Linked DNA regions of Homo sapiens. The protein of the gene in region 2 interacts with the protein of the main gene of each other region in a pairwise test. Each region holds a gene or a part of one and is shown on either strand. Other genes may lie near its edges.

Region 1 (3,651 bases), on a different chromosome or scaffold from region 2:
TTTGATAGGCGGAGGCGGAGGGATCACTTGAGTCCAGGAGTCTGAAACAGCCTGGGTGTCCAGGCACGGTGGCTCACACCTGTCATCCCAGCACTTTGGGAGGCCAAGGCAGGTGGATCACCTGAGGTCAGGATTTCGAGACCAGCCTGGCCAACATGGCAAAACCCCGTCTCTACTAAAAATACAAAAAGTAGCCAGGTGTGGTGGTGCACGCCTGTAATCCCAGCTACTCGAAGGCTGAGGCACGAGAATTGCTTGAACCCAGGAAGTGGAGGTTGCAGTGAGCCAAGATCGCACGGCTGCACTCCAGCCTGCGCAACAGAACAAGATGCCATCTCAAAAAAAAAAAGAAAGAAAAGAAAAGAAAAACAAACAGCCTGGGCAAAATGGCGAAACCCCGTCTCCACAAAAAAATACAAAACTTAGTCAGGCATGGTGGCGCATGCCTATAGGATCCCAGCTACTTGGGAGGCTAAGGCAGAAGGATCATTTGAGCCCAGGATGCAGAGGTTACGGTGAGCTGAGATCACATCACTGCACTCCAGACTGGGCGACAAAGTGAGACCCTGCCTCAAAAAAGAAAAAACTAAGAAAGAGACTGCCTTGGGCTCAAGGCTGGAGAGGGAGGTGACAAAGACTGAAGGAGACAACCGATCCTGTCCAGAAGAGAAGAACAAACCTGCAATCCTCTGACCCCAGAAATTCCACTTATGGGAGATAATCAGCCACGTGGACCAAGACTTAACATGCCGAGATGCTCCCTACAGTTTCTCTTATAGGAGGGAAAAGAGGGCAACAATAATCTAAATGTCTACGAATACAGGAGTCAATAAATTATGGCATATCCGTATAATAGCAATTATATAATTATAAAAATAACGTAGAGGAATACACTATAACATTAAAAGGGGAAAAGCAAGCTATCAACTGTGTATTCAATGTATATATACTATTGCTCTAATTTAGAAAACACAGACATTATCAGAGGAAAGAAACACACCAGCAACTTTACTGCAGTTAGCTCTGGATGGTGAGGTCACAAGTGATTTATATATTTATTTTGGCATTTATTCTTTTCAGTATTTTCCTTTTTTTTCAGATGGAGTCTCGCTCTGTGGCCCAGGCTAGAGTGCAGTGTCGTGATCTCGGCTCACTGCAAACTCCGCCTCCCGGGTTCATGCCATTCTCCTGCCTCAGCCTCCTGAGTATCTGGGACTACAGGCGCCCGCCACCACGCCCGGCTAATTTTTTGTATTTTTAGTAGACACGGGGTTTCATCGTGTTAGCCAGGATGGTCTCGATCTCCTGACCTCGTGATCCGCCCACCTCAGCCTCCCAAAATGCTGGGATTATAGGTGTGAGCCACCGTGCCCAGACTTTTTTTTTTTTTTTTTTTTTGAGACAGAATTTCACTCTGTCTCCCAGGCTGGAATGCAGTGGCACAATCTCGGCTCACTGCAACCTCCACCTCCCAGGTTTAAGTGATTCTCCAGCCTCACCCCTCCTGAGTAGCTGGGACTACAGGCACTCGCCACGGCATCCAGCTAATTTTTGTATTTTTAGCAGAGACGGGGTTTCACCATGTTGGCCAGGCTGGTCTTGAATTCCTGACCTCAGGTGATCCGCCCACCTCGGCCTGCCAAAGTGCTTGGATTACAGGCGTGAGCCACCGTGCCCGACCTACTTTTTATTCTTTTGAGACAGGGTCTCACTCTGTCGCCCAGGCTAGAGTGCAGTGGCATGATCACGGCTCACTGCAACCTCAACCTCCCAAGCTCAAGTGATCCTCCTGCTTCAGCCTCCCAAGTAGTTAGAACTACAGGCATGCGCCACTATACCCTACTAATTTTTTCTTTTAAGAGGCATTTTTTTATTTTCATCACATTGCCCAGGCTGGTCTTAACCTGGCCTCAAGCAATCCACCTGCCTTGGCCTCCCCAAGTACTGGGATTACAGGCATGAGCCACCTTGCCCTACCACAAGAAAAATGTATTTAAAGGGCCTTGTACAATGCCTGGCAAATGATAGGTGCTCAAGGAGTATCTATTGCCTGACAAGTCAATTAAAAATGCAATAAATACTGCTGCTGCAGCCCCACAGAGAAAAAGACTGATGGTTATCTTGGAAAGGAGGAAGACGGTCCAGACGGAAGCCACACAACTGGCTGCAGAGGTAAGAACGGAAGGAAGTCCTGTACAAGATGTGAAAGACCGCCAGCAACTTGAGATAGGCTTTGTTCTGCCAGCTACTCCTGCTGCACGCAATGCTTCACAAATCAGTGCTGCTGCCAGCACCTCGGAGGTGCACTTCAGCTCGGACGAAGGATGCTTCTCAGGTCACACAGAAAACCAACAAGTACAGCTGAGAACAAAGCTCAACCACAACTTCTGGCTCAAGACACTAAGACAAACCTACCTCCCAGCACAAAAGAGATTTCCCACGTGCCACCCAGAGGTATAAACAGTAATATCGCCAATGGCAAGGCCCAGGTCTGCCAGCTCCCAGGTGAGGAGGTCCAGTCTGAATGGCACCTTTTAAACCTAAAGCTAATGACAAACAATTCTATTTCACCAGAAACAAAGCTCACCATATCCCATGTCGCTCCCATCTCCAACACCACAGCCAGTGCCTGTATTTCTTTGTCCCAATGACAGACCCAAGTTTCCTGAGGCTGTACAAGTCCCAGAAATAATCTTAAAAAGAGATCAAGTTATGATCTGAAAAGAAGACAGTCTAGTTAGCCCTGCCTCCTTACATGAAATTTATTTAAAACCAAAATTACAAGATTTGGAGCACAAAGCCCATTGTCTGCTGGAAATGTTGTTTTTTGGGGAGAAATCCATTGTTTTAAAATCTAGTATAGATAGGCTCTATTTAGTACCTGTCCGCCCATGACAAGATATGTACATTTCACGGTAGGGAAGCCTCATTATTGAATTCAGAAATACATGAATTGACCCACCTGGCCTATTCTGGTTTGAAATAGAAACCAACACAGAAATGATCAATCTTAAGGGGTAGGATAATGAGACATATAACTAGCATACAGCCACAGCCATTAGCAACATGAGTCAGTACTTTGTGCAAGGCAAAAAAAAAAAAAAAAAAAAACCCTCAAAAGTACAATAAAATAATCCTTCAGGATAAAAAAAGAGAACTGAAATTCAAAAGAGGTTAGGAGTGTTGAACAGGAAAAAAAAAATTAATAACAAAAATCCCTCAGCTAAGCACAAGGCAAAGGGACCCATGCTGGAACCAGTTCTGACCTGCCATTCCTGAAATTCCACTCTCCCGAGGTTTCCTGGCTCTTCCTTCCCCAGGCTTTCTTTTTACCTATTTGGGCCCAGTGGAGGCTGGAGACGGCCACTGTACGAGATGGGACGCCCACACAGTGGGCTTAGGGCCTAAGGCAAGGGCATGCAATCAGCATTAGGGGGCCACAGATAACCAAAATTCACAGGTATGCAGAAGCTCATGGGAGAGGCAGCGACTATCTCCTGGCCTAACTAACCAGTTAACAGTATAGAGCCAGACTGGGCCCGAGTGAAGTCAGACAAAAAGGAAGGGCCAAGAGGCAGGAAGCGAGGAAAAATCAAAGGATGACAGGACCCTGCTAAAATATCTCAGTTCCACAGCTAGGAGGTCTGGAGG
Region 2 (4,222 bases):
ATAACACTAATTCTTGCTCCACTAGAATTTAAATTCGAATTGATTGGGTTCCAAAGCCATGATACTAAGGATCAAAGACAAGGCTTGCAAGATTTAAGCCTCCTCTTGTATATTCTCTCTCAAGTTCCTGGCTCATAGCATGTACCAGCAAACTCATTAAAACTAAAACGGTCTGTTTGGGAGTGAAGGATGGGAGACATTGAGAGCAACAGCAGAAAGGGTTGGGGGAGTCTTGGGAAATGCAAGGGTGCTTAGGTTGGGACCCGTGGCAATGAATGGAAGGGCAAGGGAAACTGTCTAACCAGAACTTAAAAATGCCTCTTGGTGATTTACATGAAAAGTGGCCTCTCAAGTTTTTCTATTATTCAGTGCTTCTAAGATACTGTTGCACTGTAAACCACAAAATTAATCTTATGATTCTACAATTTTACTTTCTAAATGATCACTTATTTGATGGTTTTTGAAGTACAGAAAGTATTTGGTCATTTAAATTATTTCCTTCCATGGACTCTGTATCACTGAGACAAGGAATCTTTGCCTTTATTGTAGATATTTCAATGAAAATGTCAACACGTTGCAAATTGGCATACTTTGGGTTTGCCAATATGTGATAAAGAACTTTTTCAATGGAAACTTTCCCTCTTTTCAGGGCCGAAAAGACGCTCTGCAACTATACTTAAGTATCCTAGGCAACTTTATTCATTCAAAAACATCAGAGCGGAGTCAAAAGCACAAATCCATGAATTGGGCGGCGAAGTCTGACTCCAGAGATTACGGCTGAACTGGGTTTGGAAAGACTGAACCCGCGCCGGTGCTCCTCCTGTTTGCTTGGACTTAAGTTTGAGTACCACAACTCTAACCTGCCACTTCAGCTGCACGGGCAGGCTTGTGGGGACCCAGCAACTCCGTCCAGAGAGCGGCTGAGTCAGCCAGCCGTCCCCACGGCTTTGGGCAGCCGCCGAAGGCTCCTGCTAGGCCCGGCTGGCTCACCGGGAAGTTCCCTGCCTCCGTCCCGTCAGCCTCCAGGAGGGCGCCGCCGGCCGCCGTGACTTCAGCAAGGCACTACTATCTCCGTCAGCCGCCGCCTCGGCCATCTTCCTGCCCGGAGTGCAACAAAATCCGGCTCTGGCCAGCCTTCCAGCTGACGCCACTCTGCCAGGGCCCTGCAGCCTCGGAGCGGGATAGAAGGAAGCCGCAGAAAAGACGCTGAAAGTTGGCGCTCGCTGACGCCCCGACGCGCTCCCTCCATGACGCATGCGCCCACCGGCCGTGAGCGCGGGTCCGGTCTCCGGTGACGTGGCGGTGAGGAGGCGGAGCCAAGATCAGCGGCGGGAGGGTGGGGGAGGAAGAGCGAGGTGAGCGCGGACGTCAGAGTGGAGAGCGGAAGGTCAGGGAGGCTCGGAGCGGAAGTGAGACTAGGGAGTCTGTCCGCCATTGTGGACCCGAGAAGCAGAGAGCGAGAGGGGGAAGAGGAGCGTGCAAGCGGAAAAGACGGGCCTCTTCCTCCGACTCCCGAGCGCGAGGCCCTCATTTTGGGTTCTCAGCGAACGGCGGCAGCGGCGGCGGCTGGAACAATCACTCGGCCAAGGGCGACAGCCAACTGCTGTGAGTGCACGGGGAGAGGCCCAGGCAGCGGCGGCGGCGGCGGCTCTCGGGTTGCGGTGAAGAATGTCAGCCACTAGCGTGGATCAGGTGAGGGAGCAGAGGCCCCAGGCTTGGCGAAGGCCCGAGCCCCGGAGCTCCACCCTCGCGCGGGGCTTCGGCTCCTCCCCGTCGCCGCCGCTGCCGGCCCCATAACGGTGCCCCGGGCGCAAGTTGCTGCGGTGTAGCTACCCGGGCCGGGGCGTGCGCCCTGGCCCCGTAGCTTGCGGGCGGGCGGGCGCGGTGCCGCGGCGGGTGGGGGCAAGGACCGGTCTTAGGGGCCTTAGGACAGATCCTGAGGGCGGCAGACATGGGGCGGAGACCGGGCGAGCTCTGGGAGACGGATTCCGAGTGGCGGGTGGGAGGTTTAAAGGCTGGGGGTGGTTGGGAAATTGGTGGCTGTGGAGGATATGGTGGGTTTTTACTCCTACGCGGATAGTCTAAAATAACTTGTCTTTGATAATGCCTTTGATTAACACACTTTTTCTTTTCTTCCTTTTTCTCCTCTTTACCGCATCTTTCGTCTTGCAACACAGAGACCTAAAGGGCAAGGAAATAAAGGTGAGTTTGGATTTTTTTTTTTCTTATTGCTCAATGTTGCCTTAATGTTACTTTTAAACTCTGTGAGGGTATTTTGTTTGTTTTTGCTCCCTCTTGGGAAAAAATGTAGGATTAGGGAAAATATTCATCATGGCTAAGGTAGCCAAGTTCTATCCAGAACTTCGGTAGTTCGTTGCTTTGAAGCCACTTTATAGAAACCAAAGTAGTACGAGAAACAGTTTCCTTGTCAGTTAAGCAGGTATTGGTGTGAACCTGGTGGTATTTCTTTGGTTTTCCAGTTTTTCTGTGTTATGTAACTTATGCCACAAAAAATTTCTACATGTGTATATAGACAAGTATATTCTTAAAGTGGACATTTTGTTTGACATGTCTGGATTACACTGGAAAATGGAAGTCTACATAGTATTCCATCACATTAATGAAAATTGTACTGTTAATCACTGATTCTATTGAAGTCAGTTGTAATGAGGCAACAACATGAGAGAGGTTAGAACTGAGTAGGCATGCCATCTTGCTCTATTGTTCTGATTGCAAGGTGTGACTCTATCTGGTATTTTATAAAGGGCTGAGAAGAAAATAGTTTGTGACATTTTTTCCAGGATTTTATAATTTTCTCTTTAGTAAAAGTACCATTGAAAGTAAAGTGTTTTTTTAAAAAGTGTGTTTTGTATTAATATGGAACAGTGCAGTCAGCTGACTGAAACATTATGACATTAGTCATGTGACATTTAGTTAAGTATAGAACAATAACTGCTTTCTTGGGATAGTGCCAATTAAATAACATCAGAGCAAATTATATATAACATTTTGTAGTGCTTGAAATTACACTAAAATTATGCTTTCTGTTGATTTCAGTAACACAGTGTTAGAAATTAAGATCTATAATAGCCTTTTAGATATAGATTGTCTTTGGTGCCCTTTAAATTCTTGTTAGGGTATTTATTTGCTATTGCAAATTTGGTGAATTTAATAGGTTTTGGATATGTAGATTAGTTTCCTCTGAATTATGGAATTTGTACATACCAGTTACATGGCACCATATTAGGTAACATTTTGTTTGTTTTCATTAAAGATGTTTTCTTGCAGTATGTAAATATTTAGACATTTTAATTTTTAAAATTTCATTTCTAGAATTTTTTTTGTTGTAAGCATAAACCTGAAATAAAAATTGGATATTGATTTATTTTAAATGAGTTTTTAAAAATTTGTGAATTTTAAAAAGAATGATCCATTAATTTCTTCTTTTGCTAGTCTACCCATTAGGAACTATGTAGACTTGGAGATTGTGAAATTGTGGTCATTATTGCCTAGCATAAATTATTTTATCCTAGATCTGTGGGGAGGTGGCACTTTGCAAAGCTATTTGAAATGCTAAGTGTTTTATGTTACCCGCTTTAAGGTAAGTACACAAGTTCTATGAGGTACTTGTTTGTTAAAACAAAATAGAGCCTCTACAGCACTGTAAGTCAGTAAAATAAGTTTGATTTATGAGTGGTCATTTCACTTAGGTAGGCACTGGTGGCATCTTTGATATTAGATATGAGTTGAGTTATCTATAAACTGCATAATACATCCACTGTTTGCAAATAAGTATTTTTTGGTTATTTCAAAAATTTTTATCCATCAGTATCGCTTCTGTTAGTTGTATTCAGACACATACACAAAGTGTTTATTTTGATAGTTCTTTATTCTCAAGAAATTTTCTTTCTTTCCCCCTTGTTGTTCAGTTTAATAATTTCATCTAAGGTTAGAATAATGGATTGGGATTCCTTGGAGTCCTGAGTTCTAATACTGCCTTTGGCTACTGACTTGCCAAGTGAGCTTGAAAACATTTTACCTGTCTGTCAGAATCTCCCCTCTATAAAATAAAAATAACTCTAGTCATAATTCCCATAATTCCTATAGTATGTTGTTAGGATTCTTGTAATTACAGTAGTTCACTGCTCTAGTAGCAATTATATTTGCTGGATTTCTTTTCACTTTCCTCACTTAATCTATTTTTAAGGTGCAGGAAGACTCC
Region 3 (3,461 bases), on a different chromosome or scaffold from region 2:
AAATTAGTGCATAATTTCTCAGTGAATAAAGTTGTAGCTCTCATATACTAAATAGACAAGTTTACATGCTGTTATTTAGAAAATGACTAAAATATTAAAAACCGTGTTGTGTTAATCTGTTTTAAGTCATACCATGTTCAGAGTTCTATGTAAGGTGGGTTTTATTTTTCTTTTAAGGGATAGTTTGTAATAGTAAGAACTGTCCCATATGTTAGTAAATTACATATGTACAAATTGAAACTGTAAATTGTGAACACTGGAAAGCACCATTGTGACATAGAGTAAACATCTTAGTAATATATTAAAGTGAATGTAAATGGTGGTTAAAATTACATTACTGTGAAATTCATCTTCCAACTCTAAGTTAAGCTTTGGAGATACATGTTAGTGGTTAACTGTTAAGAGCTTTGAAAACACTGCACATATCTGTACAAGCCAGAATTACTATTTCTTTGACTTATTATTAGCTTGGCAGTTGCTTTTGATTTGATTGTTTTATGACATGGTATACTACTATATTTACTCAGTTTGAAACTATTCATTTCTACACACTATTTTTAAAAATTGCCTACTAGGTGAAACATAACAATAAAACTACCTGTGCTGAAATTTGGGGGAAGTTTAGGTCCTTTAAAAAAACATATTAATCATTGACTACATCTATGATAAAAGTGCTTATTTTGGTTTACTAAGATAATGCAGTTGGTGGAAATGATAAACGTTTTAAGTGTTAACATCCTTTGAATGCGTTGGATTTCAGAGAATAAACATTTTGTAAAAATCACTTGGTAAGGATTATAAACTTAATTACTGCACTTAAAATGAAACATTACTTTTTTTAAACAATGTGTCACAAATGTAGGTCTGTATTACTTGTATGCTTGTGTGACTTACTGTTAGTCCAGCTCTAAAAATTTAAAGGTTGTAATTGAAATACAAGAAAAGAGCCTTCTTTTAGAAGAAAGCAAGTATATTTTTGCTTTTACTTCAAATGTTATTTAAAGTAGAAATTTAATTTGTAGATATAACCTTTAAAAATTTTCTCATTAAGACAATGTTTTTAATTTAATTTGCCTCATTACATCTAATAGTTCCCATTTGATGGCATGTATAGGGAAGAGTGAGAGAGTGTGTGTGTGTGTATGTGTGTGTAATATTTATATATATTCACAGTATGTATTTAGCATTTATTTTATTACAGCAGATTTAAAGTTTGTATCTAAATAATGCCTATGAGTTGTGTGAAGCTCTTGGCTTTTTTCCAACGTTACTTTGTAACTAATGAGGGTGGATGTTCATTGTAGTTTATTTATTTGGTTCTTTAGATGGAGGAATTTAAAAAATCAAATTTTTCTCTTCACCTTTATGACTTGACATTTCCTTGATCTGTTGGAGGCTAAAAGTAGGTATAAATGATATTGAATGTTGGGTATAGTGATACTCTGCCATAGTTCTTACTGCATGAAGAGAACAAGAGTCACACAAGTTCACCACTTTGCACTTCATAGAGAAGGTACATAGAGACATTGCAAAACCTGTCTCCATTTGCTATCCTGATAATTAAGGTTTTCATAATACCTAGGGCCTGTCTCTGAGTAATTTTAATTTTGCCAAATACACTGACATTTAAAATAGTGATCCATCTAAATTTTTTTCAGCTGGGTTTTGAGGAATATAAGAGCTTTCAATGATAAAGGTTTGTTGTAGTTGTCTTATGTGCTGAATTTGCAGATGATCAGATGCTGTGCAGAATTCTGATTTATTTTTGTTTCCTAAAATTAAGATAGCTTGAATATTATTTCACATTCCTTTTTCTTTTTTAAATAAACAGGTTTGCTTTGGAAAGGCTTAATGATGGAATGTTAGCATCTTCACTAGGGTAAAGAAGAACAAAAAGAATGTTGCTGGAACGTAAAATAGTATTTAAAAGTTAATGAACACTTCTCTAGTTTTCTTAGTTATGGCCTTAATAATTAGTCTCTTGGCTTAAATGTCCACTGGTTTTACTTTGACACAGTTGAACAACACTGGGGTTAAGTCTCTGGTATTTAGGCTGGCAATATATATATTAACCATATTTTAAAAGTACCAATTTTGTTTTTACAGAAAAGATAAAACTCAAAAGAGAACAGTGTATTCCTTCTGAGGGGCTTTTATAAATTATTAACTATAATATATGATGGATTTTTTCCTAATTTTTTATATTTCCTTACAATTTTGGTGGCCATTAATTTAACTTTAGGCTTTTGGGCATATGCTAGTCTGAGCTTCCGAAAAGATACATATATGTTTCCCTTTTCATTAGCTGAATGAGGATATTTTAAGAAGTTGAAAGAGAATTTATTTTCAAGTTGTGAGTAAATCCTCCTTTGAAATTCACCTGATTATTAGATAACTTAAAGTTTATTTTTAAAAGCTGACAACTTTTTATGAATCTTCGAGTTGACAGTTCCTAAAAGCGTAACTCAGATATTAATGGGCTGTGTATTAAATGGTTTTATTTTCAGTTTTGCAGCACAGAACACTGTTGAAATATCCATATCAACTTGATTTTTTTAACCTAATTCAGGTGTCCTTTGCATCTCTTAAATGTTGGGGGTGGGGGTCAGAGCCAGTTATCCGGCTTCTGTTTTGTCGATTGCTTAGATTTGTTCCTGTTGTCAAAACTGTTACCCCCAAAATTGGTGTGACACATGCTCATGCATAAAATGTTAAAATGAGTACATCCTTGTATTTGTATTTGTTTTCAACATCGCCAAGGTGCTATGGGAAATTAACAAAATTAGAAAAAAAATAAAATTATTAAAAAGCAGGACTGGTTTCCTTTTCTCTAGGTGGTGTATGTCTAATGACTACTTCTGTCTACCTTTCAGTATTATATGTTGCCCTCGCTAATTCTATTATTATTATTGTCTAAGTTGTTTTTTGGATGATGAGGGCAGTGGGAAGTAATGGTGTTTCACTTAAAACAAGGGCAGAGAGACAAGATACAGCTTTATGATCCTGGGGTATTCTTTTAGTTATTTTAGTATCAGAAGCAGTTATTAAAGGGTGAAAAATGGCTGGGCGCGGTAGCTCACGCCTGTAATCCCAACACTTTGGGAGGCCAAGGCGGGCGGATCACCTGGGGCCAGGAGTTCAAGCCCACCCTGGCCAACATGGTGAAACCCCATCTCTACTAAAAATACAAAAATTAGCCAGGCATGGTGGTGGGCACCTGTAATCCCAGCTACTTGGGAAGCTGAGGCAGGAGAATCGCTTGAACCTGGAAGGTGGACATGGCAGTGAGCCAGGATCGCGCCATTGCACTCTGTCCTGGGTGACTGACTAATGAAACTCCGTCTCAAAATAAATAAAGGGGAGAAAAGACTGCAGTGGCCCTGTAATCCCAGGGTGCACTTCAGGGGGCCGAGGTGCAAGGATCACTAGAGACTATGAGTTCAAGCCCAGCCTGGGCAATG

What was found.
Region 1: the proteins of YTHDF3 (region 2) and PRRC2B interact in a two-hybrid assay, tested with the Homo sapiens proteins (one large-scale study listed by BioGRID).
Region 3: the proteins of YTHDF3 (region 2) and LARP4 interact in a two-hybrid assay, tested with the Homo sapiens proteins (one large-scale study listed by BioGRID).

What each region holds. Positions count from the first base shown.
Region 1 is NC_000009.12:131,397,024-131,400,674, reverse strand, and holds part of PRRC2B (protein PRRC2B), read right to left. Parts: intron 1-3,651.
Region 2 is NC_000008.11:63,167,210-63,171,431, forward strand, and holds the start of YTHDF3 (YTH domain-containing family protein 3), read left to right. Parts: upstream 1-1,411; 5' UTR 1,412-1,668; coding exon 1,669-1,692; intron 1,693-1,795; exon of another isoform or gene 1,796-1,902; intron 1,903-2,177; coding exon 2,178-2,202; intron 2,203-4,222. UniProt on the Homo sapiens protein: Specifically recognizes and binds N6-methyladenosine (m6A)-containing RNAs, and regulates their stability. M6A is a modification present at internal sites of mRNAs and some non-coding RNAs and plays a role in mRNA stability and processing.
Region 3 is NC_000012.12:50,477,193-50,480,653, forward strand, and holds the end of LARP4 (la-related protein 4), read left to right. Parts: 3' UTR 1-2,812; downstream 2,813-3,461. UniProt on the Homo sapiens protein: RNA binding protein that binds to the poly-A tract of mRNA molecules. Associates with the 40S ribosomal subunit and with polysomes. Plays a role in the regulation of mRNA translation.